7 linked regions of the Homo sapiens genome follow. The protein of the gene in region 7 purifies or fractionates together with the protein of the main gene of each other region. This does not show direct contact. Each region holds a gene or a part of one and is shown on either strand. Other genes may lie near its edges.

What was found.
Region 1: the proteins of SNRPD3 (region 7) and SF3A2 purify together in Homo sapiens (affinity purification with mass spectrometry; 4 studies listed by BioGRID and IntAct, with this or other methods). This does not show direct contact.
Region 2: the proteins of SNRPD3 (region 7) and CDC5L purify together in Homo sapiens (affinity purification with mass spectrometry; 3 studies listed by BioGRID and IntAct, with this or other methods). This does not show direct contact.
Region 3: the proteins of SNRPD3 (region 7) and SNRNP70 purify together in Homo sapiens (affinity purification with mass spectrometry; 7 studies listed by BioGRID and IntAct, with this or other methods). This does not show direct contact.
Region 4: the proteins of SNRPD3 (region 7) and SF3B1 fractionate together in Homo sapiens (co-fractionation; 4 studies listed by BioGRID and IntAct, with this or other methods). This does not show direct contact.
Region 5: the proteins of SNRPD3 (region 7) and SF3B3 fractionate together in Homo sapiens (co-fractionation; 2 studies listed by BioGRID). This does not show direct contact.
Region 6: the proteins of SNRPD3 (region 7) and SNRPA purify together in Homo sapiens (affinity purification with mass spectrometry; 3 studies listed by BioGRID and IntAct, with this or other methods). This does not show direct contact.

The regions. Positions count from the first base shown.
Region 1 is NC_000019.10:2,243,324-2,246,823, forward strand, and holds part of SF3A2 (splicing factor 3A subunit 2), read left to right. Parts: intron 1-58; 5' UTR 59-95; coding exon 96-221; intron 222-1,220; coding exon 1,221-1,292; intron 1,293-1,409; coding exon 1,410-1,456; intron 1,457-2,122; coding exon 2,123-2,232; intron 2,233-3,429; coding exon 3,430-3,479; intron 3,480-3,500. UniProt on the Homo sapiens protein: Component of the 17S U2 SnRNP complex of the spliceosome, a large ribonucleoprotein complex that removes introns from transcribed pre-mRNAs.
Region 2 is NC_000006.12:44,390,706-44,394,205, reverse strand, and holds part of CDC5L (cell division cycle 5-like protein), read right to left. Parts: intron 1,540-3,500; coding exon 1,378-1,539; intron 761-1,377; coding exon 633-760; intron 1-632.
Region 3 is NC_000019.10:49,102,451-49,105,777, forward strand, and holds part of SNRNP70 (U1 small nuclear ribonucleoprotein 70 kDa), read left to right. Parts: intron 1-976; exon of another isoform or gene 977-1,137; intron 1,138-2,183; coding exon 2,184-2,285; intron 2,286-3,327. UniProt on the Homo sapiens protein: Component of the spliceosomal U1 snRNP, which is essential for recognition of the pre-mRNA 5' splice-site and the subsequent assembly of the spliceosome. SNRNP70 binds to the loop I region of U1-snRNA.
Region 4 is NC_000002.12:197,393,529-197,397,028, reverse strand, and holds part of SF3B1 (splicing factor 3B subunit 1), read left to right. Parts: intron 1-700; coding exon 701-973; intron 974-3,500. UniProt on the Homo sapiens protein: Component of the 17S U2 SnRNP complex of the spliceosome, a large ribonucleoprotein complex that removes introns from transcribed pre-mRNAs.
Region 5 is NC_000016.10:70,561,816-70,565,315, reverse strand, and holds part of SF3B3 (splicing factor 3B subunit 3), read right to left. Parts: intron 1,441-3,500; coding exon 1,266-1,440; intron 252-1,265; coding exon 46-251; intron 1-45. UniProt on the Homo sapiens protein: Component of the 17S U2 SnRNP complex of the spliceosome, a large ribonucleoprotein complex that removes introns from transcribed pre-mRNAs.
Region 6 is NC_000019.10:40,763,546-40,765,889, reverse strand, and holds the end of SNRPA (U1 small nuclear ribonucleoprotein A), read right to left. Parts: intron 2,304-2,344; coding exon 2,215-2,303; intron 883-2,214; coding exon 723-882; 3' UTR 501-722; downstream 1-500. UniProt on the Homo sapiens protein: Component of the spliceosomal U1 snRNP, which is essential for recognition of the pre-mRNA 5' splice-site and the subsequent assembly of the spliceosome. U1 snRNP is the first snRNP to interact with pre-mRNA.
Region 7 is NC_000022.11:24,558,999-24,562,498, forward strand, and holds part of SNRPD3 (small nuclear ribonucleoprotein Sm D3), read left to right. Parts: intron 1-3,500. UniProt on the Homo sapiens protein: Plays a role in pre-mRNA splicing as a core component of the spliceosomal U1, U2, U4 and U5 small nuclear ribonucleoproteins (snRNPs), the building blocks of the spliceosome.

The sequences.
Region 1 (3,500 bases), on a different chromosome or scaffold from region 7:
CCCAGCAGCAGCCCCGAGTTCTGAGCCATCTTCCTCACTCTCCTCTTGGCCTCCACAGGTGTCTCCCAGTCTGCTAAAGCCCTAAGGCCATCACCATGGACTTCCAGCATCGCCCCGGGGGCAAGACCGGGAGCGGGGGCGTGGCCTCCTCCTCCGAGAGCAACCGTGACCGCAGGGAGCGCCTCCGGCAGCTGGCCCTGGAGACCATCGACATCAACAAGGTGGGCCAGCCACCGTGCAGCTGCCTGTGGTGGGTGCTGGGCTTTCCAGGGCAGCCCTGGAGAGGGTGCCAGAGGCTCTTCTTGGGCCTCCGCCCAGGCTGGGCGATGCAGCCCCGTGTCCAGACGCTCCCCTGTTGCCCCCGAGCAGCCACAGCTCCCATCTGTCCACCCCAGAGAGCAGACCCTCTGTGGCTCTGAGTCCCATGTGGACATGTTTTGTTCTGTCCACAGCCTTCTGTTTTGCATTATTTAATTTTCTGGGAGTGGGGAGAGCTGATGTCAGTCCAGCCAGATGTGGTGAAGGGCAGCCTTTGATTTTAGCTTGTGCAGAGGCAGGGGTGAGCCGAGTCCCCTCAGCACCGTGGACATCGGGGCTGGAGCACTCTTTGTGTACCCTGACATGCCCCACGGGCCTGGCCTATGGCAAGGGCTCTGTTACCGTCCCCGTCTTCCAGATGAGGTCATGGGTAGAGGGGGTGCCACAGCCGCAGATGGTGGAGTTAGACTTTGAACTCCAGCGTCTGAGACGAGATGTGTGCGCCCGGCTGCCCCAGCTTAGGGCCTGCAGATGGGCGGGTCTTTGGGTCTTCAGTGTAGCCCATTTGCTTTTCTTGTGCCTGTGTCTGCCTTGTGCCTACTGCTGGCGTGGTGGCGTGGGCAGTGGACGGCTCCCTGCCTCGGGAGTGACCGGCGGTGCTGTCCTGGCTGTGCCTCCCTCTGACTCAGAACCACCAGGAAGGTGGTGTCGGGGGCTCCCTGGGAACCCCCACTGCTCGAAGCCTGGCCCACAGCCCCAGGTGGTGACACCCGTGCTCACGAAGGCCTCCCGCTGGATCCCCCGTTTTCAGAAATGCTTGACCACTGTCAGCGGTAGCCATGCCTCTACAGAAGGGGGGTTCTGCCTCCATGCCTCTACAGAAAGGGGATCCCGCCTCTGAGGGCCTTGACGGCAGCAGGCCGCGATCTTCTGTCTAACGGGCCCCTGTTCTTCCCCTCCAGGACCCGTACTTCATGAAGAACCACCTGGGCTCCTATGAATGCAAACTCTGCCTGACACTTCACAACAATGAGGTGCGGCCTCTGCCTGGCTCCGGGCGGCTCGCGGCGGGCTGAGTGGCTGACGTCAGGGGGACCTGCCTGTGTCTGTCCGCCCGGCCTCGAGTCATGCGTGTTTCCTTTCCACTCCAGGGGAGCTACCTGGCACATACGCAGGGGAAGAAGCACCAGACCAACCTGTGAGTACCTCATGTCCCTTTGATGCCTGGTGCTCCAGCAGCCGTTGGCTCAAGTCTCTGTGAGCCTCGCGGGCCACTGCTCCACAGCCGGGGAGCCAGCCTGGCCTGAGCCTCCCTGGGCGCTTGAGTACGGTTCCTGGGGAGCATTAGAGAACAGAGGCATGGATGGCTGAGGCGGGCAGATCACTTGAGGTCAGGAGTTCGAGACCAGCCTGGCCAACATTGTGAAACTCCATCTCTACTAAAAATACAAAAATTAGGCCAGGCATGGTGGCACACGTCTGTAATCACAGCTACTATGGAGGCTGAGGCAGGAGAATCTTGAATCTGGGAGGCAGAGATTGCAGTGAACCAAGGTGCTGCCACTGTACTCCATCCTGGGCGACAGAGTGAGACTCTTGTCTTATTAAAAAAAAAAAAAAAGAGCAGAGGCATGGAGTTGTTGGAAGGGCCCCAGCCAGGGACAGTGAGGAGCATGACAGGAAGAGAACATGCCTGTCCTATCCCTGTCCTCAGCCAAACCCCAGGGCCCCTCCCAGGCCCCTGGCCCTCCTCATCTCTCAGCTTGTAGTGAGCTCCAAGGTCAGGGGGCTCCTGGCACCTGGGCCCATGGCTTTGGTGCCTGTGTGTGGAGGGGTCCCAGCAGCACCTCCATCCTGTCCGCAGGGCCCGGCGAGCAGCCAAGGAGGCCAAGGAGGCCCCTGCCCAGCCCGCGCCTGAGAAGGTCAAGGTGGAGGTGAAGAAGTTTGTGAAGATCGGCCGCCCGGGCTACAAAGGTGAGTCTGCCCGCAGCGGGGCCGGCCACAGCCGCTGCCGTGACATAAGTGTGTTCTTTAGTCTCCAGTGCGGGAGGTGCAGCCCTGATAGCCTCCTCCCTGAGCCACTGTTTTCCGGCCTTGGTGGCCGTCCCTCACCCACCTGCAGCCTCTGGCGTTGTGTCTGGGAGCTGTCAGGCTGGGCCCGATAAGCACCCATCTCACCCAGCAGCCCATTTCCCAGCTGAGCCACAGTCTGTGCCCTCCTGTCCGGGTCTTGTGGAAGCTTCTGGGAATTCTTGCCAAGCAAAAGAGTGGAAGTGGAGGTGTGGTGAGCCCTGGCACATCCCTCCGGTTAACCTTGAAGCCTTTGAAGGAGGACAGGGAGAAGCGGCTGTTAGAGGCAGCTCCTCCCGGACCCTCAGCAGTGGGAATGGCTAGAGGTGACCCCGGTTCAGAAAGCTGGGGAAGTGACCAGGGTGGAAGATAGAGACTTGTGTCCATAGGGTTCAGGAAGGCGGGCACGCTACCCAGCAAGTGTTCTTTACAGAAGGCGGGGACAGCCTGTGTGCCTGGCCTCCAGACAGAAGCCTGCAGGGCAGAGGTCCCGGGGCAGGTGCACCGGGTGGGCGAGGGTGGCTAGAGCGGCAGGCTCCTGGTGGGGAGGCCCTGACAGGTCCTGGGCTTGGGCTCAGGACGGTGAGGCGGCAGAGGGCTTGTGAGTGTGCGTGTCTGAGGCCGCATGGAGAGTGGCCGGGCGGCAGGCAGCCCAGCAGCCATTCTCGGGGTCCAGGCTGCTGAGCTCTGGCGGGAAGGGCATCCTCTCTCGCTCACCGTATACATGGTGTCAGCCCTGTTCAGGCGGCCCCGCTCGAATCCCAGAGCCAGGGTGCCGAGGGCCCCTCCCTACCCAGTGGCCCCAACTCCTGCTGGGTGGTATCCCAGCACCCCTGGTGAAGGGCTCTGGGGATTGGGACAAAGGAGCACCATCCTCGGTCCCTGCCTGAGTGACTCCGCAGGTAGCTCAGCTCTGGCGCACCTGTGCCTTCACCTATACCAGAATCCCAGAGCCTGGGCGGAGATTGTCTAATGGTTGCCAGAGCTGCAGGGCCTCCCCCGGGGTCCCGCTCTCGTTCAGTGGGTGGCATTAGCCTGCCCCAGGTTCCTCAGCTTCGGAGAGGACAAGCAGCCGGGACCTGAGAGCTTTCTGTGTTGCAGTGACCAAGCAGAGAGACTCGGAGATGGGCCAGCAGAGCCTCCTCTTCCAGGTGAGATCAGGGACTTGGGCG
Region 2 (3,500 bases), on a different chromosome or scaffold from region 7:
GTTGCCCAGACTGGCCTCCAACTCCTGGGCTAAAGAGATCGACCCACCTCAACTTCCTTAGCAGCTAGCACTACAGGCACATACCACCACACCCCGTAACACTTAATTAACTTAATTAACTGAATTGAAGAAACAGAAGATGAAGGGGCGCTGTTCAGAAAAAGCAACTACTCTATAACAGAAAACACTGGACATATTTGGAAAGATACTTAGAATAAGAACACTGCTGACAGAATTGGGGATCAGGTATGGTGGCTCACACCTATAATCTCAACACTTTTGGAGGCAGAAAAGGGAGGATAGCTTAAGCCCAGGAGTTTGAGACCAGCCTGGGTAACACAGGGAGACCCCATCTCTACAAAAAAATTTAAAAATTAGCCAGGTATGGCGGCATAAACCTGTAGTCCCAACTACTCAGGAGGCTGAGATGGGAGGATTGCTTAAGCCCAGGAGGTCAAAACCGCAGTGAACCATGATTGTGCCACTTCATTCCAGCCTGGGTAACAGAGCAAGACCTTGTCTCAAAAAAAAAAGGGATTCTAAAGTAGAGGAGTTCAGAAAGGAACTAAAAGAGTGAGGCCCAAGGAGTTTACAGTTACCAAAGAAATAAATTCCTCAAAGCATACACTTACCCTCATCCATATCAATTGGATCAGGCCGCGCTGGTTTTGTTTCTGGATTTGGATCTATTTCTCCAGGTTTAAGTTTTCGTGGATCATCTGTTGTTTCCTCTTCATTGTCTCTTTGGGCAGCTTTATCCCTAGAAAAAAGCCCATAGGAGTTAGTCACACTACAGTACCATTTAGAGTTAAAATTACCAGATTTCCAAGTTCTGACGATATTTTTCCCCCCAAAAAAACCAATGGATGGGCTTTAACAACATAAAGCCTTTTTACTATCACTTCATCTGAAAGAAATGATATTAAAATTTGCTGATTTCAGTGACTGGTTTCAATCACTCTAAAATAGAACCCAAACAGATCCTAATCACAAATGCGGTACAGCCATACAAATTTAAAAAAAAAAAAAAAAAAAAAAAAACTATTAGTAAAGAACCAAAATGTTCCAGTAGTTAATTCTTAGCAGTGTGATTATGGGTGACTTTTATTTGCTCTTTTACTATTTTTTCCCCAGATTTTCTATGATGAACATGCATGACTTGTATAATTCTTTTAAATTATTATTTTAGGAAGTATATGACAGAAGGCATAATTTTGATCAACCATCTGAGATATGGAAAATATTATCCAATGGCTTTAGCTTTGGGTTTACTCACATCCATAATTAAAAGTTTAAAGACAGAAAATACTCAAAGTTTATTCAGCCTCTTTCAGAACATATACATATATTCTATGCTCTTTCTGAAGACTCACTTACAGAAGAAATTCATAGTGTTCTAAGCACTGGGCCGCTGTTCTTCCAATGATTGGAGCAATGGTCCTCCACTGAGTTGGCATCAACTTGGCCAAGTGCAAGAGTTTTTCCTCTTCTTCTCTGGACCATTCTGTCTTCTTAATGCTTGGATCCAGCCATTCATACCTATTAAACATAGATCATTTTATATATTAATCAGTTACCTGGCATAAATATCCAATTTGCACAATGGATACACTGACTTGTGCTCTCATCCTTCAATTACAAAAACTGTTCTTTTTGACAACAGAATATTTGCTGTGTGGTTACACTTACCCCAGTCAATATTCCCCATCTCATCACATTCTATTTTATTTTAATTATGCAAGATTAGTAATGGTTAAAAAAGGTTACTTCACTGAATCATGATCATAAGCCTTCTTTCTCATCTATCATGTTTTTATTTATTTACGCTTTTCTAGAAATTTTGAAATATTTGGAAGACAATACAAAATCACGTTTCTTACAGTGTTTCCAGTTTTCATACTATTTTCTCATGCTTTGATTCTCACACCATGGCTTATTTCTTTAAGCATTTGACTTACACTCACTAAATTCACCGTAACCTTTCATTTGATATGTTTTAAAATTTAAGTAAAACTACTATGACATTCCCTCTGTCTTTCCTAATTCCCCACCCAGCCCACCTTTTCCATCCAGTCTACTTAGCTGGATGACAGGCAGGCAAACAGGACTTAAGTCCTACCAAATATGACAGCAGGAACTGGTACCACTAAGACAAACAGAAATCAGAACGACTTCTTCAGCCTAAAAATCATCTTCCTCTTAACAGCCAATTTCTACATTCAAAAAGCCTCACTCTGTCGCCCAGGCTGGAGTGCAGTGGCAGCATCTCAGCTCACTACAACCTCCACCTCCTGGGTTCAACCGATCCTCCCACCTCAGCCTCCCAAGTAGCCACCACGCCTGGCTAATTTTTGTACTTTTAGAAGAGACGGGGTTTTCACCATGTTGGCCAGGCTGGTCTCAAACTCCTGACCTCAGGTGATCCCAGCCTTGGCCTCCCGAAGTGCTAGGCTTACAGATGTGAGCCACCACGCCTGGCCAATTTCTACATTCTGATACTTTCCCCTAACCAGGTGCCTAGGAAATTAGGTCATTCTTATACAATCCAAAGTATTTTCCTAATGCCACATGACTTGGGGATGGTGCTAAATAACTCATGCCAAGAACACCCTAAATAGCTTCACGTGTCCACTACCCTATGATTTAAGAGGTGACACCAGCCGGGCGCGGTGGCTCACGCCTGTAATCCCAGCACTCTGGGAGGCCGAGGTGGATGGATCACGAGGTCAGGAGATCAAGACCATCCTGGCTAACACGGCGAAACTCCGTCTCTACTAAAAATACAAAAAATTAGCCGGGAATGGTGGCAGGAGCCTGTAGTCCCAGCTACTCAGGAGGCTATGGCAGAAGAATGGCGTGAACCCGGGAGGCAAAGCTTGCAGTGAGCTGAGATCACGCCACTGCACTCCAGCCTGGGCGACAGAGCAAGACTCCGTCCCAAAAAATAAAAATAAAAAAGAGGTGACACCACAGGTTCAGAGTTGGCTTATATCTTTTAATATATATAACATATTAAATATGTTTAATATATACAATATATAACATATTAAATATGTTTAATATATAATATATAACATATTAAATATGTTTAATATATAATATATAACATATTAAATGTTTAATATATAATATATAACATATTAAATATGTTTAATATATAATATATAACATATTAAATATGTTTAATATATAATATATAACATATTAAATATGTTTAATATATAATATATAACATATTAAATATGTTTAATATATAATATATAACATATTAAATATGTTTAATATATAATATATAACATTAAGTATGTTTAATATATAATATATAACATATTAACTATAAAATATATAATATTTCAACTGTATTATGAGGAAACTCAACTACTGTAGGCTTACTTAGAAAATTAGCCATTATTTATCATTTATTTCTTTGAGCAAGTAATTTCTAAAACAGCTAACTTATGCACTTTTAGAACACAATTAATTTACAAGCTGGGGCTCAT
Region 3 (3,327 bases), on a different chromosome or scaffold from region 7:
GACCCGGCTTCGTGATGTCAGCGGCGAGGTGGCAGGAACACCGAGGGCAGGGCTCCAGGCCAGGGCTCCACTGGAGCCCTTCAGCCTTCCCTCCCTGCCCCCGTGCTTTCTATGGGGCTGCTACTGTGCTGGCCCTGGAGAGTCTTTTTGGCTGCTAGTTTTGGGGTGCTCTGCCCCCTTTCTGTCTTCCTTACTGTGGTTGAGGCCTCCCGAGGGGGCTGGCTGTGGTGTCCAGCAGCTCTCCAGAGGTGGTCAGGAGCTCCCTAAAGTGCATGGAATTGGGGCTTGGGGTGTGGGAGGGACCAAGGGGTAGGCTGCTAGCAGCTGAAGGTGTCGTAGGTTTTTACTAAAGAACCTTCCACTGTCTAGAGACTTGAGAGAGGGAAAGAGAGAGAGAGGCCTAGACGAACACAATCACATGTTTTCTTTGCTGTTCCTCCCGGGATGGGCCTGTTTTGGGGTTTGGGACTCTGAACCCGAGCGGGGTTCCTTCGCTTGACTTTGATCCTGGTCCTTAAATGCCTTTCCCCACTCCCCTCCCGTGGGTTCAGGGGCCAAGCGGCCCCTCCTCAGAGCACGGGCAGCACCGTCTCCTGGACCCCTGTGTGCCAGCCTCTGCAGACGCAGCTGGTGGGAGGGAGCATGGATTTGGAGGTGGAGAAGTCACTCCTGGTCCTCGGAGGGGGTGGGCTGTGTGCCTAGTTCAGTGTGACTCGGGGATTGGTGAGGGCGGACAGGTTTCTGAGGCCTCCCTAGCCTTCTTTGTAAATTCACACGAGATAGTCCAGGGCTTTCCAGCGCCCAGCTTGGATGATAATCCTCGTCTCCCCCACTCTAAGGCCTCCTTGAGATTTCTTTGGGGTCTACCACGTCCTCTGCCTGTCTCCAGGTGGTACAGGAGATGTGGTTCCTCTCCCTCTCCTGGCTCCCTAGAACCCCCCACTTCCCCTCCCTGTAGCTTTAGCTGACCCCGTGGTGGTGGGTGTGGGGTCTGTGCGCGTGCTCAGGTAAGCTTGGGGGCTCCAGGTAAGCGGTCCCGTGTCCCCCCCCCGGGAAGCCCGCCTCCTCGCCAGGCCCCCAGGAGTTGCCGAGCCCCCCCCATCCCGCTCGGTTTGGACACCCGCAAGGCCGGCATCGGTAAATGGCACCTTTTTCTCTTCCTCTGGTTGTTATTTGGGGGGGAGCGGGCTGGGGCGGGGCAGGGTATTACGGTTGGTTGAGGACAGCCCCCTAGGCCAGGGCTGGGTGGGGGAACGGGGACTTTTTGGCCTTCATGACAGCCCCACGTTGATCACAGGCCAGGGCCTCAGGCTTGCCTTCTGCTACGCGCTGCCCGAGAGCAGCAGTGAGCCTCTCCCCCGTCTCCCCTCTACGACTCCCCTTTCCTGGCAGGCTCAGGCTGGGGTGCGCTCCCAGCACGTGTTGAGCCGGGGGTGTGGAGGGCGAGATGGGGCAGGGCTGGGGGGAGGCAGAGTCAGTCGTCTCAGGTAAGGCAGGGATTTTCAGTAGCACCGCACGGCTCCCCATGCTTCCTCCACTGCCCCTCTCCCCTGCTGCAGGGGCCCCGCCAGGCCCCCTGGGAGTGTATAACCCGCCTCTCTGCTCCCTGCCATTTCCTGAAGATTTCTCCCACCCCCTTCTGGTTCATTTTCTGTTCTGATGTCTGTTCCCCCCACACTCACCCCCCTCCAAAAAAAACAAAAACAGAAAAAACCGGTGTGGTCTGGGGTGCGGAGCGTCCCAGCTGGGCCTCCTGCCCCGGCTTGGTGTCTCAGGGTGCATGCTTGGGGTTGTGGAGGAGCCCCCTCCCCCACAGCAGAGTCCAGCGTGGAGTTAACCTTCAGTTTCTTTGCAGCGATTTTGGCCGCCCTGGCGGGAGGGGGCTGTTCCATCATGTGGGAGAGGAAGGGCCGGGGAGCCTAGGGGGTGGCGGGTGAGGGTGGACGTCTCCCCCGACCAGGAGTGGTTGGGGCGCTGAGAGGAAGCAGACGCTGAGATGGAGCAGGCCCTTCACCGGTTTGGGAGAGGGTTGGTCTGGCTGTCAGTTGCCTGGCTGTCTGTTGGGCGTGTGCGTGTGCGTGATGATGGGGACACGGGGCGGGGATTCTGTAGAGCTGGGCCTGTCCTGACTAGAGGACCCTCTGGGGACTCCTCTCCCCTCCCCCTCCCCACATCTGTTACAGCCGCTTACAAACACGCAGATGGCAAGAAGATTGATGGCAGGAGGGTCCTTGTGGACGTGGAGAGGGGCCGAACCGTGAAGGGCTGGAGGCCCCGGCGGCTAGGTGAGCACATCCTGCCTTCGACGGGCTCTCGGGGGCCCTGGGCCTGGTGGCCTTGTTCTCCCTTCTCTGCTGCTTTCTGCTTCTCTGTCTCCTGCCGGCCCACCTCTCCCATCGCGTCCTCATCTCCGGCTTCTCTCTCTTGTGGCCATCACATTTCTGACAGCTGCCTGCCTCCTCGTTCTGGGTTACTGTGAGGAGCAGGGGCACCAGCCTGGAGAGGCCTGAGCCCACATGCTGGCGTCCGCCCTTGCTAGCTGGGGGTCCCCTTTTCCTGCCTCATTGTACTCCTCTTAGTGGAAATAACCCCGAGTTCACTGAGCTCAGTGTACTGGGCGCCCAGCTTGGCAGTGACGCATGCTGGGGTTGTAAATGTCACTCGCTCATCTGCTTCTGCTGCTTGCTGTTGCTCTTGTTCACTCTTTTACTGATTCAGCAAGTACCTATTGGATCACCAGCTGTGTGCCGGGCTTCTAGTTGAGCAACACAGAGGCAGCCTCTGCCCTCTGAGCCTCCTGCATTCGGTCTCCTCATTGTCATTTGCTGTCTCAGGCAAGGTCAGTTTGGCTGCAAGTATCAGAAATAAACTTGAGCTTCCTGAAACATAAAGGGCCCTGTTGATGTAGAATCATGGGCATCCTTTGGAGTTCGGAGGTATGTGATGTCCGTGGACCTGAGAACCTGGTAGCTGACGCTGTTAAGAGCTGGGGCAACCAGGCCAGGCGTGGTGGCTCGCCTGTAATCCCAGCACTTTGGGAGGCCGAGGCGGGTGGATCATGAGGTCAGGAGTTCGAGACCAGCCTGGCCAAGATGTTGAAACCGCATCTCTACTAAAAATACAAAAATTAACTGGGCGTGGTGGCGGGTGCCTGTAATCCCATCTACTCGGGAGGCTGAGGCAGAGAATTGCTTAAACCTGGGAGGCAGAGGTTGCAGTGAGCCAAGATAGAGTCACTGCATTCCATCCAGCCTGGGTGCCAGAGCAAGACTCTGTCTCAAAAAAAAAAACAAAAAACAAAAAAACTGGGGCGACCCACCTGTGATG
Region 4 (3,500 bases), on a different chromosome or scaffold from region 7:
TGGCTTAAGAAAATGTTTTCAAGGAATATGACATGTGAATGTCTGATTAATTAGGTAGAATTATACCAGACAACACCCCCTCCCCTAACACATACTCATTCCTCTCCTATTTTGGTAGCATAATATTTATTTCAGTGGTGATGGAGTCAAGACATTTGCAAGAATAGCTTTTGTGCAAGCTTTTAGCCCCAATGTCCCTCTAAGTTTATGTCAAAGAAGAGGCAAATAGATGCAGCAAATTGTGTGGAGGAAAGATAAAAGGAAAAGAGATTTTATATGGTTTATAATGGGAGACTACAATTCGGATATTCCCCTCACCACTCCTACCTAGTTCTAGTGCCCATTTTGACAACTCAGAGAATTACTCACTTTAAACATTTAGTTAAATTTCTTTATATTTCAGAAAGTTTAAGAACTGAAAATTACATTTGAAAATTGAGTTAACTTAAAATGTTTAGAATTTGTACAGCTATGACCTCTGATCTTCTCAGAGTCAACTTTTTTAAACTGACCTTTTAATTTATATGAAATTTTTATATAGAAACAACAATGCCAGTGACTTGAAAGTATTGCATTTTATAAAATTACTGAGTTCCCTGTAATTATTAATACTTAAAAGTTTTCATCTTTATGCATTTTTTTCTTCCATAAATTTTTGACTTATAATGTAACAGCTTGTTGACCCATTTGTTTTTTTCAGCCCTCATGATGTATTGGCTACACTTCTGAACAACCTCAAAGTTCAAGAAAGGCAGAACAGAGTTTGTACCACTGTAGCAATAGCTATTGTTGCAGAAACATGTTCACCCTTTACAGTACTCCCTGCCTTAATGAATGAATACAGAGTTCCTGAACTGAATGTTCAAAATGGAGTGTTAAAATCGCTTTCCTTCTTGTTTGAATATATTGGTGAAATGGGAAAAGACTACATTTATGCCGTAACACCGTTACTTGAAGATGCTTTAATGGATAGGTAAGTGACTTGAACTAAATACAAGAAAATAATTATAACTCTTCCTTCATTTTAGAACATCGTGAAATAGTTATTAGATGACTTTTTACTGTAACATAGTTAAAGAAAAAATTGCTAGCCTGGAGTCTTAGGACATTGTAAATATGACTTATTATTTTAAAATAATGTGCACGCTGTAGTGATTCCCCAGACTTTCTTTCAAGTTCTCCCATCCCCTTTAAATCTCTTTTCTTATCTATTGAATTAAATAAATTTTGAAAAGGGTTGATTGATAATCTTTTGTTTTCAAAATTGGTCAAATATAGTTAGAGGACATGATGAGCAGAAGCTAATGGGCAGAGACCTGATCTTTTTAGCTTTTTGTTGCAGGTAAAGGACAGGTTTCTCTTAAGCCTTTGAATTACTGAACAATAGCCTGCCAGAACTACACTCTTCCTGTTGCAGGTCCCTGGTGTTTCAGATGGTGACCACCAGTAGAGTACTGTTCAAGTTATTTGACAGATTGCTAATACCTTTTACCATCTAGACTGACGTACAGCCTTAAACACAGAAGTAACTGAAGAAAGTGCAAAGGAAAGTGCAAGCGTAGTAAGGGAAAGAACTGTTTCACTGGCTCTTTATTTTTCAGGAGAGATAAGTTACTCAAATCAGAGCCCATTCAAATACTTTTGTGTACAGATTTAAGTTATTCATTAATAACCTTCTGAAAGGGAGACTTAACTGGACTCGACAAGTTACCAGAACGTATATATGCAAGACATGGAGACAAAGTAAGAATTGTGCTCTGTAAAAGCCTGGCTGCCCAGGGCTAAAAAAAATGAGGGTAAATCACCCTTGCTCTGTATTCCTTAGTGAGAAGTGCCTGAGCACCATAGTGCAGTCATTAATGTATGTCACCTGCAGTTAAAAACTTTTTTCTGTGTACTAAGAAGTTAAGGGAGTAATTCCATTGAAAATTACTAAATGAAAAGAATACTTCAGTTGGAAATTTTATTAATGAGGAATACTGCTTCATTCTTATGCTGAATGACATTATTAAAATAAATAGGAAAAACAAGAATATTAGTAAATACAAGTATTTTTCTCTTTTCTCTTTGATATGGTCTGTGTTACTATCTTTGGAGCAAAGTGTGGAAACTCATTTTTTTTTTTGGACGGAGTTTTGCTGTGTCACCCAGTCTGGAGTGCAGTGGCATGATCTCGGCATACTGCAACCTCTGCCTCCCAGGTTCAAGTGATTCTTCTGCCTCAGCCTCCCAAGTAGCTGGGACTACAGGCGTGTGCCACCATGGCCGGCTAATTTTTTGTATTTTTGGCAAAGATAGGGTTTCACCGTGTTAGCCAGGATGGTCTCCATCTCCTGACCTCGTGATCTACCCGCCTTGGCATCCCAAAGTGCTGGGATTACAGGCGTGAGCCACCGTGCCCGGCCTGGAAACTCATTTTCATACCCATTGCAAATCCCATTGTGTTAGCCAGCGAGCTCATACTTGGTTGAATAATTGTGGAATGAATAACTCATTGATTTTTCATGAACATAAATTCAGTTAACATAGGAGATGATAGTTATTTCTGTAGGTTTGAAAAAATTATTGATCTTTTGTTCCTCTCCCCAAATTGAGTTATTGAATGAAACTTAAACTTTACGTGAGAAGGGAATTTAACTTTAATTTAGTTACCTATTATATACCAGTATCTGAAGTACTAGTAAAGATTTAAGTTTATAATCAAGAGTTTAAAATGATTTGGGAGGCCAAGGTGGGAGGATCGCTTGACCCCAGGAGCTCAAGACCAGCTTGGGCAACATAGCGAGGCCTTCCCTATCTCTAACAATAACAATAAAAAAGAAAAATAATTTTTCTTTTTTTTTTGAGACAGAGTTTCACTCTTGTTGCCTAGGCTGGAGTGCAGTGGCACAATCTCGACTCACTGCAACCTCCACCCCCCAGGTTCAAGTGATTCTCCTGCCTCAGCCTCCTGAGTAGCTGGGATTACAGGCGTGTGCCAAAATGCCCTACTAATTTTTGTATGTTTAGTAGAGACGGGGTTTCACCACGCTGGCCAGGCTGGTCTTGACCTCCTGACCTCAGGTGATCCATCTGCCTCGGCCTCCCAAAGCGCTAGGATTACAGACATGAGCCACCATGTCCGGCCTGAAAAATAATTTTAAAAAAGAGAAAAAAGTTTAAAATATTACTGTTTATTATTCATATGTTAGAACCACATGCCTCCTCTTTAGTAGCATAATAAAGCCAAGACTTCACAGAGCCCTCCTGCTCATATTCCTTTTAAAAGTTAATTAGATGGCCAGGCACGGTGGCTCACGCCTGTAATCCCTGTACTTTGGGAGGCTGAGGCGGGCAGATCACAAGGTCAAGAGATCGAGACCATCCTGGCCAACATGGTGAAACCCTGTCTCTACTAAAAATACAAAAATTAGGCAGGCGTGGTGGCACACACCTGTAATTCCAGCTACTCAGGAGGCTGAGGCAGGCGAATTGCTTGAACCTGGGAGGCAGAGGTTGCA
Region 5 (3,500 bases), on a different chromosome or scaffold from region 7:
TCCTGTTCCAGCCTGCCAAACCCTGGACTGTCCTGGGCTGCTTACCTAAAAGCTGCCTCATTCTGTTCCAGCTGGACAAGGTCCAGTGTGTTCCCTTGAATGGGATTCATCACTCGGATCACAGAGGCCCACTGCCCATTGCCAGCCTTGGGAGCTCCAAAGATGGATTCAGGGAGGTTTTCATTGAGGAATGCTGCTGCCATCTCTGCGGCCAGCTCCCGCTCATCCTCCCCTGCTGCTTCCACCATTTCCTAAACCCAAAAAAACGAGTAACTGAGTTGGCGTGCTCAGAGGTAGGGGCTGGCTGAGAAGAGGATAGGTAGCAAGAACACTCCAGGGGGTTCTCAATACATAAAGCAGCAAAGTCAGCCATCCCAGCCAGGATTTCCCGACATGACTATTAAAGGGAGAGGTGTACAGACTAGGGAAGACAGAAGATCAGAAAGGGAAATCCAGACATTGCTGGTTACATATTAGTAGAAAACACCAAAAATAACAATAGCTGTGACAAATATTGGACTAGTGGCTTGAGAAAAATGACAACGGAAACTCCACTTTTCTATCCAACCCATCTGATTTCCCTTACTAAAACTACTCTGTCTCCACTCTTTAAGGATGGATACAGTTCTACGTGGTTGTAGCTATTTGGTTTCTGCTAGGCAATGAGTTCTAGAAAGAGCTGGTGTTGTGGAGAACATGAAAGCTGTCTCTTTTGGGCCCAAATAAAGGAAATACAGTCTATTTTGGAAGCTCAAGGACGGGAGAATTCTGTTTCAGAGAGGGAACTTAATTGTGAATAAATGGAGGTCAGAGTATAGTCCTGGGTTACAAGAAAGGCTCTAAAATGAAGTACTTTGGGGCAAAGGCCTCTGCTTAAAAAAGCTGAAAAAAGCCTAGATCTTTAAAAACAAAGAATATACTAACAATTACAGGAGTTTAAACTTTTGATAGAGTCTCGTGTCCAGAGTGCCACTGGTATGCAGTGGCATGATCATGGCTCACTGCAGTCTTGAACTCCTGGGCTCAAGTGATCCTCCTGCCTCAGCCTCCCAAGTAGCTGGGACTACAGGAGTGCACCAACACACCAGGCTATCTTTTAAAATTTTTAATAGAGGTGCAGTTTTGCTATGTTGCCCAGGCTGGTCTCGAACTAGTGGCCTCAAGCAATCCTCCCACCTCAGCCTCCCAAAGTGCCGGGCAGTTTAAACTTTTCAACATAATTTCACACATCTTTTAATAGAACCCCTGAACGTTAGTCTCATTACCTCTGCCATCTGCTGCTTTCTCTGAGCTTTCGTGGCCTCAGTGTAGGCATTGTGGTCCGTTTCAATGATAATAAGGTTGTTACTCTCAGGGTGGATGACAAATTTCCTGGGTGTGTACTGCAGTGGGAAGGCTACTTGATTGAAGACAGCACCGAGCTTCTCTAATGCCAAAATCCTATGACAAAAAAGCAAGGCAGTTATTTAATACTCACTCGGACCCAGAAACTGGTGTTGAAATAGACTTTGAGCAGTCAGCAAACACGTCAATCCCTGGAGCTCTAACGTTGGCATTAGGCAACATTAAACAACAGCCTCCTACTCTAGAAAACTCTGCGATGCAGACACAGAGATCCAGGAAGGGCCTTCCCATTTGGCAACACCCTACCACAATTCACAGCAGTTCTAGTTCCTACCAATGAAACACAAACGATTGTCAAAAGTTTTTTTTTAATCACTCCAATGATAATAAAGAGCCCAATCCCAAATTTGTTGTGAAACACTGCAATTACCTAAACATATATGGTATTTGTAGTGACTGTGCTTCATAAAATAAAGTGGATACCTTTGTGAACAAAAATCACCTCAGTTCAGGAAAACTATGACAATGCAAGAGACAGCAAATAAGGGACCTACAAATTTCTGTCAAATGGGACAGAGATGTACACATAAGCCAAACTATGTGCAAAATGAGCAGAACCCAGGTACTCTGAAAAGTATAGTTACCCGATCTCTAATGATGGAGTTTTATTTGTAGTTTATTCTCTACATTAAAAAAGATAGGGGCTGCGTGTGGTGGCTCACGCCTGTAATCTCAGCACTTTGGGAGGCCAAAGCAGGCAGATCACCTAAGGCTAGGAGTTCAAGACAAGCCTGGGTAACATGGTGAAACACCAACTCTGTTGAAAATACCAAAAAAAAAGCCATGTATGGTGGCGCACGCCTGTAGTCCCAGCTACTTGGGAGGCTGAGGTGGGAGAATCTCTTGAGCCCAGGAGCTCAAGACCAGCCTGGGCACCAAGGTGAAATCCTGTCTCTATAAAATAGAACACAAAAATTAGCCAGGCATGATGGCATGCGCCTACAGTCCCACCAGGTACTTGGGAGGTTGAGGCAGAAATAGCTTGAGCCCAGGAAGTTGGGGCTGCAGTGAGCCATGATCACACCACTGCACTCCAACCTGTACAACAGAGTAAGACCTTGTCTCAAAAAAAAAACTTAAAAATAAAAATAATTAAATAAAAAAATAAACTGCCTGCCAAGAACTCTGCTTTTATGTCTCATAAGTCACCTTCCCTGATTTAGTTTTGGGGGGAAGTAAGTTCTGCTGCTAGGAAAGCCTAAAAATCTGTAGCGATTGTCTAAATCTATAGCAATTCAGGAGGTAGGGGCCACAGATGAGGCTACAACAAGGCTGGCTTAAAAGACAAGGGGAACACTGACAGGCAGGTATGTATGTGGGTGAAGCATTCTAGCACAGGTAGAGATTAAAAAAATATTAAGTGATGTAGAGCAGTGCAGGGAGATCAATTCTGCTGGAGCAGAAGATAAATACAAAGATGACGGAAAGAAAAAGGACAATGACCATGAAAAGACCCTGAAAGTTGTTGCAAAGAAATTTTGGGAGCTCATTTGATAAGCAATAGTGATTAATCTATCAAGAGGCCATAGTTTCATTATGAACAGCCAATAGTTATAACCAGGATGTGAACAACTTTGGTGGCTTAATTTTAAAAGCCCCCCAAAACCTGAGGAAGCCAAACTGACTGAATTATTTTAGGTTCTTTTCCATCTTGCAAAGAATATTACATACAGTGCTCAAACTTCACATCAATATTACCAGGAAGAACAGTTTTGTCAACTTGAAAAAGGTCTAAATAACTTATAGATAGGTTAACATTTAAGATTTAATACCGCAAATGACAAGACAGAGTAAGAAAGGTTATCAATGCAGTGATCCAATACTTGCTCTAAAACTAATCCAATGGCAATACCCTTTTGCTAGAAAACAAAAATCTGAAATCTCAGGAAGATTGGACTGTATTAAAGCTTGGCCTTGAAAATCTTAACAGAAGCTAAAACACCGAAACTTGGCTCTCAGGTACTAAAATGCTGAGCCAAATGAAGGTTTCAATTGCAACACACAAGCTTCATGGTGAAGTCGGCTCTCTGCCACCTCTTCACAGCCTCCTCCAACACTCTGGCAGAACCAGTCTGAGCCCTTGGCAGAAAGGCTTC
Region 6 (2,344 bases), on a different chromosome or scaffold from region 7:
CGCCCCATGATTTCAGCAGCACCAAGTTTCCTGTATTAAATTCCTTTCTGTTTGAACTACCTACTGTGGTTTCTCTGGGGCCATTGCTACAACAGGCTGCACTTTTGAGAAGAGTAAAAAAAAGGTGAAGAAACACCTCTCCCTGAACACTCTTGTCATCTGTTAGAAAAGTGGTGGCATAAACTTGTAAGCCTACAAAGTGAATGGTGTGCCCTTAAAAGGTGCCATTCTTGTGCAGTACCCATCCTGCCTAACTGTACGCGGCAGCCCTGACTTTCCATTTCCTGACCCAGGATTCCATTTCCTGCTGTGAATTGGGACAACATACAAAACTGCCAAAGTAGTCATTGTAACCTGAGTTTGAACAATATTACTACACTATCCTATGTTTCCCCAAGGTTGCAAACCTCAAAATGCCAAGAGGTCCAAAAACCCAGGATGTGCTGCTGAGGTGGAGGGAAAGGAACCATGAAGAGCAAGAAAATCAGACAGACAAATGATTGTGAAAAACCAAACCTCAAAAAGCCACTTTAATTCCGGCCTAACAGCGCCAGGTGCAATGTCTGGGGACAGACTCTGGGTACAATGCTGTGTGGCGACCACTCACTCACACACGGCTCCAAGAAGGCCCCCAAGGGGGGACTTACCTTCAGGGGGCTGAGCCAAGGGGGAAAGGGGTGGCCCCAGAACAGGGGAAGGGGCAGGCATGGGGGGAAAAGGTGCTACTTCTTGGCAAAGGAGATCTTCATGGCGTTGTTCTGCGTGATCTTAAAGCCCTGCAGGGCATCGCGAGCTGCCCCTGCCTGTACCTCATTGTCAAACTCCACGAAGGCGATGTCATGCCGCCCGGGTACCAGACGGACCTCCTTGAAGCCAGGGAACCTGAAAGAGAACGACAGACCTCAGGGACTCAGCATTTCCCCCTAACGTAACGGCATCAAGTGGACAGAGGCCAGAAATGATGCCAAATAGCCTCCAATGCACAGGGCAGGGCCCCATTACTCAGAATTATCCAGCCCAAAATGCAGATAGTACTAAGTTGAAAAACTCTAATGTAAACATAGCATTTAATGAAAAATTTAAACACAAACACCCATGCAACTGCAACCTAAATCAAGAAACAGTACACCGCAGTCTCCTGGGCCCTTCCTAAATCATAACCCACCCGCCACACCAAAAAAATAACCAATACCCTCACTTTTTCCATTTTTATTCTTGTATTTTTAGGAGAGAAGGGGTTTCACCAAGTTGCCCACATTGGCCTCGAACTCCTGACCTCAAGTGATCCACCTGCCTCAGCCTCCCAACATACTGGGATTTTAGGCGTGAGCCACCGCACCCGGCCTTACCCTCACTTTTCTGATATGCTGTTTCTCTAATTTCCCTCTTCTCATTCCATACTTCTTTCTCCATTAAGCAGCCATCCTCATGTTTACTAGGTATCCTTTTTTCCATCGGCATTCTCACAAAATATACAGCTTTGTGGACAGGCTGCACATGTGGTATTGTTTTTCTGTATTTTTCAGGTTCTCACAATCTTCTCTCGGCACTATTATAAAGTTGCGCTTTCTGTTCTTCTAAGTGCCACGCAGTGCAGCATGGTGAGATGCTGCATGTAGCCATCCCTTCTCCCAGACACCCTCCAACTCCCCACCACAAACACTGACGAATGCCCCACTCACAGCCCCTGAAACAGAACCACCAGATGAACTCACCCACACCCACGACTTCACTCAACAATGGTGAACAGCCCCTCTACACATCGGCTGCACCGGCCTCCACCCTGACGCCAGGCACAAGAGTTTCACGCATCCCCATCTCCCACACTTGCTGTTTCTGAGCACGCTGACTTCTGCCAGTCTTAGCCAATGTTCAAGGACATCTCAATGCAGTTTTACACATACCTTGCCTTGCATGCCCCCATTTTAGGGGCTGGGAAAATGAGGCCCAGAGCCTGGACTCCCTCAGCCCTCAAACAAGGCTGAAAAAAGCCGGCAAGCCCTGGCCATGGAGACCTTTCCAGCCTCACCCCCATGTCCCCCACAGGCCGTGGGCCCAGCCACAGCCTCCTCCTTTCACATCTTTGGTCGCTGTCCCTTCTGCAAAGCCCTACTTGGCTCAGAGCTCTGCTGGCAGAGTTCTGAGGCCTGTTTCCATGGAGATGCCTCCTGGCCATCACCCTCCAGGGACCACCCAGCCACAGGCCCCACTTACTGATTGAAAAGCATGGACAGCATGAGCTCGTTGGTCTCCTCTGGCAGGTTGGTGAGGAACAAGATGTGATTCGGTGGATTCTCAGAAAGCTGCGGGGGTATAGGGGAGTCGGTGAGCACAAGAGCCCTGA
Region 7 (3,500 bases):
CCAGGACTTTTACAAAGATCAGATGAGCTGTATGTGTGCCATAGCTGCTCAGTGCCTCACATACTGTGAGTGTTCAACATATGATACCTATTGCTTTTTTCCAGATGAGAAGGTCAGAGAGGTAAAGCACCTTACACCGCGGTCAGGCATCCTGACCATCCATTGGTTTGCAGGGTTCATTTATTTGTGATTTTTCTGTAGCTTTGAGCGTCTGTCATCTTCCTGCGAGGTTGACAAGCTTGGTCAGTTCCCTGAATGCAGAGAAGTAGACCTCTGGTGACTCAGGTTTATTGCATTACTGTCAATAGATCAGTTTATCTATTGAGGGTAGATAAGTTTATCATCTCTCATATATCCAGTCCTCTGGCTTAAGGCATGCTCATCCACTTTAAGGTTCTTTAATTTGGTGAGGAGAATGCAAGACTTGGGTTAGTGAAGCTTAATGGGTTTGTTCAATTAGCTGTATGTATTTGGACAACTTGCTGGGTTTCCAGGGCCTTTGTCATCCCATCCGTAACGTGAAGGTGTCTAACCAGATAACCTTGGTAGCCATTCAGAGATGCAGTCAACATGACACAAAGTGCACAGACCTTGGTGTCCGACAGACCTGGAATCAGCTTGTAGCCTGCCCCCTAGGGTGACTTGGGGCGAGCTTAGCTTTGGACCTCCTTCATCCTCTGGTCCCTCCTCTAAATCAGGGATAAAAATAGCACCTTGGCCTCAGAAGGAACCATGCCTGACCAATGGTGGGGGACAGCCACCTGCCTCCCTGCTTGTATTTGTATGCTAGTGCTACCATAACAAAGTTTCACAGACTGGGCAGCTTAGACAACACAAATTTATTTTCTCATAGTTCTGAAGGCTGGAAGTCTGAGATCAAGGTGTTGGCAAGGCTGGTTTCTTCTGAGGAATGTGAAGGAAGGATCTGTTTCAGGCCTCTCTCCTTGCTTATATATGGCTCTCTTCCTGTGTCTTCACTTGGTCTTCCCTCTGTAGTGTTTCTGTCCAGATTCTTCTTATAAGGATACCATGCATGTAGGATTAGGGCCCACTCTAATGACTTCATCTTAACATAATTATGTTTATAAAGAATTTTTTTTTTTTTTTTTTTGAGATGGAGCCTTGCTCTGTCACCCAGGCTGCAGTCTTGCTCTGTCACCCAGGCTGGAGTGCAGTGGCGCGATCTTGGCTCACTGCAACCTCTGCCTTCCAGGTTCAAGCGATTCTCCTGCCTCAGCCTCCTGAGTAGCTGGGACTACAGGCATCTGCCACCATGCCCAGCTAATTTTTGTATTTTTATATTTTTAGTAGAGACAGGTTTCACCATATTGGCCAGGCTGGTCTCGAACTCCTGACCTTGTGATCTGCTCGCCTCGACCTCCCAAAGTGCTGGGATTACAGATGTGAGCCACCATGCCCAGCTTGCTTGCTTTTTTTTTTTTTTTTTTTTTTTTTTTTTTTTTTTTTTGAGAGTCTCACTCTGTCGCCCAGGCTGGAGTGCAGTGGCATGATCTCAGCTCACTGCAACCTCTGCCTCCTGGGTTCAAGCACTTCTCATGCCTCAGCCTCCTGAGTAGCTGGGACTATGCCCAGCTAGTTTTTCGTATTTTTAGTAGAGATAGGGTTTCCCCATGTTGCCCAGGCTGGTCTCAAACTCCTGAGTTTGCCTCAGCCTCCCAAGTGCTAGGATTACAGGCGTGAGCCACTGCACCTGGCCTTTTTTTTTTTTTTTTTTTTTTTTTTTTTTGAGACAGAATCTTGCTCTGTTGTCCAGGCTGGAGTACAGTGGCACAATCTCAGCTCACTGCAAACCTCCGTCTTCCCGGGTTTAAGCAACTCTCTTGCCTCAGCCTCCTGAGTAGCTGGGGTTATAGGCATGGGCCACCGTACCCCACTAATGTTAATATTTTTTGTATTTTTAATAGAGATGGAGGCTCATCATGTTGCCCAGGCTGGTCTCTAACTCCTGAGCTGAGGCAATCTGCCCACCTTGGCCTCCCAAAGTGCTAGGATTACAGGCATGAGCCACTGCACCCAGCCTTTTTTTTCTTTTCCTTTTTCTTTTCTTTTTTTTTTTTTTTTTTTTTTTTTGAGATTAAGCTTTGGTCTGTTGACCAGGCTGGGGTGCAGTGGTTTGATCATAGCTCATGGGCAGCCTTGGACTTCTGGGCTCAAGAGATCTTTTCACCTCAGTCTTCTAAGTATCCAGGACTACCAGTGTGCCCCACCATACCTGGCTAATTTTTAAATTTTTTTGTAGAGACGGAGTCTTGATATGTTTTTCAGGCCAGTTTCAAACTCCTGGCCACAAGTGATCCTGCTGCCTCAGTCTCTCAAACTCCTGGAATTACAGGCATGAGCCACCACATCTGGCCTGTAAAGATTTTTTGTCTCTAAATATGATCACATTCTGAGGTGCTGGGTATTAGGACTTCAACAATGAATTTTTTTGAGGGATACAATTTAGCCTGTAACAGGATGTAGAGGCCTCACTGGGTCTATCAAAACCTAGGCACATTGAATAAGAGCCAGCAGACTGTGGCGTAGCTAAAGCTGGTGGTGGGTGAACTCTGAGCACAGTTTAGTTTGTTCAGCACATCTCAGGCTGTGAGGCTTGCCTGTCCTTCCCAGATCCAGTCATTCTGCCTTTTGGGAATGAGAACATCCTCTTAGCACTTTTCCTTGCTTGTTCAATAACATTTTCTGTTATAAAAGTGGGGTGGGACAAAATGTGGTGGCTACTCCTATAATCCCAACACTTTGAGAGGCTGAGGCAGGAGGATCACTTGAGCCCAGGGGTTCAAGACCAACCTGGGCAACATGACAAGACTTTGTCTGTAAAAAAAATAAAATAGACGGATGTGGTGGCACATGCCTGTAGTCCCAGCCATTCAGGTGGAGGCTGAGTTGGGACGATTACTTGAGCCCAGGAAGTCAAGGCTGCAGTGAGCTATGGAGTGCCACTGCACTCCAGCCTGGGCGACGGAGTGAGACCTAGTCTCACACACACACAAAAGCACACCACAACGATTCGGAAAAGATAAATAGAGGATCTCACTCTGTTGCCCAGGCTAGTCTTGCACTCCTGGACTTAAGCGATCCTCCCACCTTGGCCTCCCAAAGTATTGGAATTACAGGCCTAAGCCACACCTGCCCTGTTTTGGGGTTTTAGTATTTACTTTTTATTCTATCCTCTTTCAGAAATAGTTAGACCCTGTCTCTTCTGAAAAGCAAAAAAGTTTAAAAATTATCTGGATGTGGGGCTGGGCACTGTGGCTCACGCCTGTAATCCCAGCACTTTGGGAGGCTGAGGCGGGCAGATCACGAGGTCAGGAGATTGAGACCAGCCTGGCTAACACGGTGAAACCCTGTCTCTACTAAAAAAAATACAAAAAATTAGCCAGGTGTGGTGGCGGGCGCCTGTAGTCCCAGCTACTCGGGAGGCTGAGGCAGGAGAATGGCGTGAACCCAGGAGGCAGAGCTTGCAATGAGCCAAGATC